2 linked regions of the Homo sapiens genome follow. The protein of the gene in region 1 purifies or fractionates together with the protein of each later gene. This does not show direct contact. Each region holds a gene or a part of one and is shown in the gene's direction. Other genes may lie near its edges.

Region 1 (3,500 bases):
CTTCAAAAACAACTTACATTTCAAGAAGAGAGAAATTCCATTTTGACAACTATACTCACGAAGATACTTCTAGTCCTCAGAGTAGGCCTTTGGCTTCGGATTTGAAAGGTACGCAAGTCCTGGTAGATTAGTAGAGATGTGTTTAAGATTCTTTTAGCCTATTGGGCACTACAGAGTACAGAAATAAGGAGGAAACTTTAAAATGAATACAATTTTGTTTTGTAAAATTTGTATCCAATTTATTATACAGTGAAATTATTTAGGAATTTTTTCTAGATAAAATATATATTATTTTGTTTATATTATGTGCATTGTATGTGTACAAACCAAGTTTGGCAGTGAGCAAGAGGGAGTTAATTATTATTTTAAAGTATAAGTAGCACTCCCACCTTAAAAGAATTCTTTTTTTTTTCCCTAGGAATTCCAAGTAAACTGTATCATTTGCTTCCATCCAAGATATATAAATAAACTGCTAAAATCAATGTTTCAAAACCTTTGTCCAAGTACTTTTTCCCCCCACAAAATAATTTTAAATTATGTGATTACATTAACCTGGTAATTGATTAGACTAGTTTTTAAAATTAGAAATTGGAATTAAGTATATATTTTATACTGTCAAGAACGGTGGCGAATCTGAGATTTTACCCAACTAGTAAGCTCATATTTTAGCCTGCCACAGTTTTGTGGGTTCTAGTGGAAGTCACAAGACTCCTGAGCGAGAGATTAAGGAGAGTTTGTTACAATAGCAGGAGCCAGGGAATCAGCATGTTTGCATTGGTTGTCCAAGCCCCAGTTTCTACAGGCAGTGTAAAGAGGATCACACAGTGGATTGCATTACAGGAGAGAGTGAGCTTAGAAACCCGAGTATTATAACGGATAGTAAGATGCCTGCCCTTTCCTGTAGGTGGAAACAATACACATGCCTGCCCTGGCTCCAGAGGAAACACAATCTCTAGCTTCCAAGGTTGCAAGCACACCTGTTCTGTGCTCCAGAGACACTCTGTCTTCCAAGACTGCTATTCAAATATTCCTTGTTGAATTCTGTCCAAAGCTTTTTCTACATTTATTGGAGGTGATCCTGGTTTTTCTCCTTTAATCTGTTAATATGGTAAATTATGTTAATTTTGAAACACTAACCTTGAATTCCTGGGATAAACTCCACTGGGTGATGTTGTATTATTCTTTTAATATACATTCCTGGATTCAATTTGGTAATATTTTGTTAAGGATTTCTGCTTCTGTATTCAGAAGGATGTTGGTCTGTATTATTTTCTTGTAATGTCTTTGTCTGGCTTTGGCATCAGGAAAATCCTGTTGGGAAGTGTTTCCCCTCCTCTATTTTCTGAATTTGTGTAGGATTGGTATTATTAATATTATTCCTTCCTTAAATATTTAAATATGTAATACTCATACATATTTGTAAAATATATAATATGTAAATATTCACCAGAGGGCCTGGATTTTTCTAAATGGGAAGGTTTTACATTGCTAAATGATTTCTATTAATATAGAACTACTCAGATTTTCTATTTCTTGAGTTAGAGTTGACAATTTTGTATGTTCTGAGGAATTTGTACATTTCATGTAAGTTCTCAAATGTATTGTCACAAAGTTGTTCATAATATTCCTTATTAGCATTTTAACGTTCAAAGGACTTGTAGCGATGTCCCCTCTTTAATTTCTGACATTGGTAATTTGGGGATTCTTTTTTCTTTATTATTCTTGCTAGAGTTTTACCAATTTTATTTTTCTTTTCAAAAAATCAGCTTATTATTTCATTGATTTTTCTTGCTGCTTTGTTTTTTTCTTCCATTGATTTCTGTTCCTATTTAGTAATTTCATTCCTTTGGGTCGTCTGGTGCTACTTGGCTCCTTCCCTAGTTTCGTACCTGCATTAATAGCATCACAGAGTCTGGTATGTTTTCATTTTCATTCAGTTCAAAATACTTTCTTTTTCACTTGTGATTTATTCTTTGACCCAATGGATTGGAAGTGAGTTGCTTGATTTCTAAATGTTTGGAGATTTTCAGTTATTTTTCTTTTATTGATTTCTAATTTAATTCTGTTTTGATCAGAGAACATAATCTTTTTTAATTTATTGAGACTTGTTTTATTGCCCAGAATAAGGTCTGTCTTGGTTGATGTTTCAGGTGAACTGGAGTGTTCTATAAATGTCAACTGAGTAAACGTGGTTGACAGGTTTGAGCAAATCTATATCTGTACTGATCTTGTGTCTGCTTGTTCTAACAGTTACTGATAGAGGAACAGAGAAGTTGATTTGTTCATTCTATAAATTTGTTTAGTGTGTTTTAAAGCTCTTTTAATTTTTATTATTAATATTTTTTTTTTGAGATGGAGTCTCACTGTTGTCAGCCCGGGCTGGAGTGCAATGGAACAATCTCAGCTCACTGCAACCTCCACCTCCTGGGTTCCAGCAATTCTCCTGCCTCAGCCTCCCGAGTAGCTGAGATTACAGGCGCCTACTACCATGCCCGGCTAATTTTTGTATTTTTAGTAAAGACGGGGTTTCACCATGTTGGCCAGACTCAGTCAAACTCCTGACCTCAGGTGATCCACCTGCCTCGGCCTCCCAAAGTGCTGGGATTACAGGCATAAGCCACCGCGCCTGGCCAAAGCTCTTTTATGTATGCATACACATTTAGCACTATTATGTCCAGTTGGTAAACTGATACCTTTATTATTATGAAATAACCTTCATTATCCCTAGGGGTATTCCTTGTTCTAAAGTCTCTGATATTGATATAGCCCCTCTAGTTGTCTTTAGATTGGTATTTGCATAGTATATCTTTTTGCATCCTTTTATATTTATTTTGTAATGATGAATCAGTAGGAGAAACTCTGAATAGTTAAATAATAAATATATACCATGAAAATGGATTACTAAATCCTGAAAATCAAATATAAATCAAAGAACTAAAGTATTAAGAAAATAACTAATGGTGAGCACTATATCCATTTAAATACAAAATTAAGATTAAAGAACTGTTTGAATTATGGTTACAAAATAGAGTGTTAGTGTTAAAAAAACATTGACAATATAAAACAAACAATATAACTAAAAAGTTAGGTGCATCCTTTTACTTTTAACCTACCTTTGTCTATTTTGTTTACTGCTGAATCCCAGTGTCCAGAACCATGCCTGGAATATAGCAGACACTCAACATCTGTTAAGTGAATGATGAATGAACAGGCTGCCATTACACTAGAATATTAGGCAGAGGCTGGGCATTCACCTTGTACGAACATTATAAAGAGTTTTAAGTATCAAGAAGTTTAGACAAAATTAGCTGGGTGGGGTGGTACATACCTGTAGTCCCAGCTACTCAGGAGGCTGAGGTAGGAGGATCGCTTGACCCCAGGAGTTTGAGGCTGCAGTGAGCTATAATTGTGCCACTGCACTCCAGCCTGGGTGACAGAATGAGACCCCATCTGTTAACAACAACAGCAAAGCTTAGACAAGATGACATTTTAGGTCACTT
Region 2 (3,500 bases), on another chromosome or scaffold:
AAACTAAAAATATGAGAACAAAGACTCCATGAGGAGAGCATTTCATAGAAGAACAAATTGCTTTACATACTTTAAGAGCTTCTCAGAGCAGTGCTAGCATTATGGCTAGTGAAAGTCAGCCAGATTTAACCACCATTGCAATAACCAACAGCCAGATTTAACCACCATTGCACTAACCAACTGAGTCAATAGCTTATTTGGGCCATAAGAGATAATTATCAGAGACATGCATACTAATTGTTGGTTCCTATTGTCAGAAACTTCATCTTCTAAAGTGATGTGTTGTACAAAAATTTTTTGTTGTTTACTTTTTCGGGGATGTTGGATGACAATTATCTCTGAAGGAGATCCATTAAGCTTTTATGAAACTGAATTATTAAACAAAATAAAACAACAATCATTATCATATAAATTTTTAAAAATATTTTTATGGGTCATCAAGTCTAAGAACCAGTATTTGAGAGCTACTGCTTTTGGGTATTAGTTGAAGTATAAGACATGATACTTAAAGTATCATGTCTTGTAAGTACGTGTCTTACAGGCCTTATATTGATGCTTACAGCCTTTACAGCCTTTGAGAAGCTTTTGGTATAAATCTGGGAAATAGAACATAAAAGAGAGTGGTGAGGTGAAAAGAAAATAAAACTGGGGGTCAGGGCCTAAGGTTAGTCATGATCTGTCAATAGTAACTAGCCAAATGTGGCCTTGCCTTCTGAGTCTCCATAGGAAGACCAATGGTGTTGGAGTGAATCCGAATTGACAAATGCACTTCCTGGTGCCATATCCCCCTTTCTGCTCATGGCAAACAAGGAATCAATTGCCACATTCTATCTGGTTCAGCTTCTCAATAGTCTGCCAGTACTAAATACTCAGAATTGGCCCTTGAGATGAAATGTGTTTGCCATCTTGATCCTAGTGATCCTCAATCAGTAGGATAAGGAAATTAAGAGGCCCTAGGGCATTCCTAAAGTGTGCTTTGATTGTGAGGGCAGGGACTTCTTTTGGCTTTTTGAACAATCCAAAAATAATTTGTTTCACCATGAGCCTGGTTGCGTTCTTTAACAGTCTGTCTCTGCTACTAGGTTACTTGTGTTGGGCATATCATTGGTGCTGTGGTTGCTGACACCCCGGAACACACACAGAGAGCTGCCCAAGGGGTGAAAATCACCTATGAAGAACTACCAGCCATTATCACAATTGAGGTAACTGAGAATGGGCTGCCTGTGTAGAGGAGTGAGCTCCCCGTCCCTGGATGTGCATGTATTAGGATCCCCTGGAGGGGATTTGAGCAGCAGGTAGGGATTTGACTAGATGGGTTTTTAAATCCCTTTCAACCCTGGGATTTGGGGTCCCATGAAACCTTCCCCTTTATGATCTTATGCCCAGTCCACTAACAACAGCCAAACTGAGTTCCTCCTTCTCAAAATTTTACCTCCATCTGGTCCTTGTGGTATTCTTTGCTTTTCCTCAAGGTCCAGGGTTGTCCACCTACAGCTGAGGAAATGGAGGAATATGATTCTCTGGGCTATAGTAGAGCTTACTTCAAGTCTGTATGTGAAGCATATAGAGATTCATTTATGGAAAGAGAGAGTCAACAATTCAGAGAGCTTCTCTTTCCCTAATCAGAACCTATCTTTCCCTCCCTGCTAAAAGCCACATTTCTGAAACTTCTTTGTGATCCTCAGGATGCTATAAAGAACAACTCCTTTTATGGACCTGAGCTGAAGATCGAGAAAGGGGACCTAAAGAAGGGGTTTTCCGAAGCAGATAATGTTGTGTCAGGTAGAGCTGTTCCATGCCGCAGTGGGAATGGGGTGGCCCTGGTTTGCAAATTAAATTCAAGAGATATGCATTGAACCCTGAAGCAGGGAAGTGATTTCTGGACATTTCCTGACAGAAGATTCCCTCTTACGTTTGTAGCAAAATAGGAGACAGTTGGATGGGAAAGAGCTTCAGTTATCTTAATCTCTACTCTCCTGTCTCTAGGCTGGACCTAATGATTCTAGAGAGATTCTAGAGTATTCTGATCCGGAAGACCAACTAGGGATGATAACAGCCACATATGCCTGACAGCCTTAGGTCTGCCAGGCCTCTAACCGCATAAATTCTCATCCTCCCCCTACCTGAAGGCAGTCCTTACCCATCTTCAACTAGCATCCTCCCTCCTCTTCCCTTTGCCCTGCTCTCCCTCCACCTCTGTCTCTGACACTGTGAAATCAAATCCATTGCTCCCACCCCAGGACAACACAGCTGACTACCTCTTTTGGAACTGTTTTTTACATTGGCTGTTGTGCTTTGCAAAGTCACTATGAAGCCAACTCTCCAACAAGCCTGGTATGAAGCCGACTCTCCACCAGGCCTGGTAGCTTAGGTTCGGGAACATGCGCTGGTTTTCAGTGTTTCAATCACATCTATTAATCCCTGCTTTACTTTTTCCAAAATTTTACAATGATGGTTTTTGAAATCCTTGATTTCCATAAGCTGCAGTGAGAAGAGAACTTTGGACTGGATGCATTTCAGTGTCGTTCTTTCTTTGTTGTGGGGGTGGGGATGAGGCTGGAGCACTCAGCTCCCAGATAGCTAAGACTTTGGGATCCTTTTCCACCCCAAGTGGGAAACCTTGAGGTTACCCCTCAGGTAGCCATTGCTTCCTGCCCAGACCACTTGGCAGAGTATACTCTCTCCTTAGGCAAGCTGGCCCCTTCTGCAGCATTGGGCTCACTGTGAGGGATCTCACTGCTTCCCCAGGGGAGATATACATCGGTGGCCAAGAGCACTTCTACCTGGAGACTCACTGCACCATTGCTGTTCCAAAAGGCGAGGCAGGGGAGATGGAGCTCTTTGTGTCTACACAGAACACCATGAAGACCCAGGTAGATGCCTTTTGGGTCAGCTCAAGGGGCTGTCAGGGTAGCGGGGAGCTCCTAGCAGACCAGGAGGGCCATGTGGGAAATAGGAAGAGGGAGATGTGGGCTGGTCCAGAGGGTACTCGAGTGTCATAGTCCTGGAGCCAGACTCTTTCACCAACAAGCTGGTATCACTGACCTTGTTCCATAACCTTTCTCAGCCTCAGTTTTCTCATTTATAAAATGGGGCCTGGGTGGGTTGTCATAATTATTAGATGAGTTTTAATATTTAGACTAGAGTTTGGTACATGTTGGCAGTTATCATTTCAGTGCCTATGGCCTCGGTCAAGTCATATCCTGCCTCAGTTTCCTCATATGTAAAATGAAGGTGTTGGATTAAGTCATAGCCACAGGGACCACTAAATTATCTACAGCAGCTCAAATATTCTTTGTTTCTCTACTGCCTGTAATGTGACAGCGGTTGCCAGTGTTTTCGGCAGCTGGTCCTACTCTCATGATCTACCAGTCGCTGGTCACCTGGTCAGACAGAATAAGTTTCTAAAAGTATTCTGTGACCAACTGCTTGCCCTCTGGTTAAAAACCAATGCTGAATTCAGTCTGGCAGGCCCCAGCATCACTAACCACAAAGCTGCA

Evidence for each region. The genes of interacting proteins can lie anywhere in the genome.
Region 2: the proteins of CCDC110 (region 1) and XDH purify together in Homo sapiens (affinity purification with mass spectrometry; one large-scale study listed by BioGRID and IntAct). This does not show direct contact.

Annotation. Positions count from the first base shown.
Region 1 is NC_000004.12:185,454,734-185,458,233, reverse strand, and holds part of CCDC110 (coiled-coil domain-containing protein 110), read left to right. Parts: coding exon 1-108; intron 109-418; coding exon of another isoform or gene 419-468; exon of another isoform or gene 469-492; intron 493-904; coding exon of another isoform or gene 905-1,038; exon of another isoform or gene 1,039-1,833; coding exon of another isoform or gene 1,834-1,898; exon of another isoform or gene 1,899-1,915; intron 1,916-3,500.
Region 2 is NC_000002.12:31,366,243-31,369,742, reverse strand, and holds part of XDH (xanthine dehydrogenase/oxidase), read left to right. Parts: intron 1-1,082; coding exon 1,083-1,202; intron 1,203-1,685; coding exon 1,686-1,782; intron 1,783-2,748; coding exon 2,749-2,873; intron 2,874-3,500. UniProt on the Homo sapiens protein: Key enzyme in purine degradation. Catalyzes the oxidation of hypoxanthine to xanthine. Catalyzes the oxidation of xanthine to uric acid. Contributes to the generation of reactive oxygen species. Has also low oxidase activity towards aldehydes (in vitro).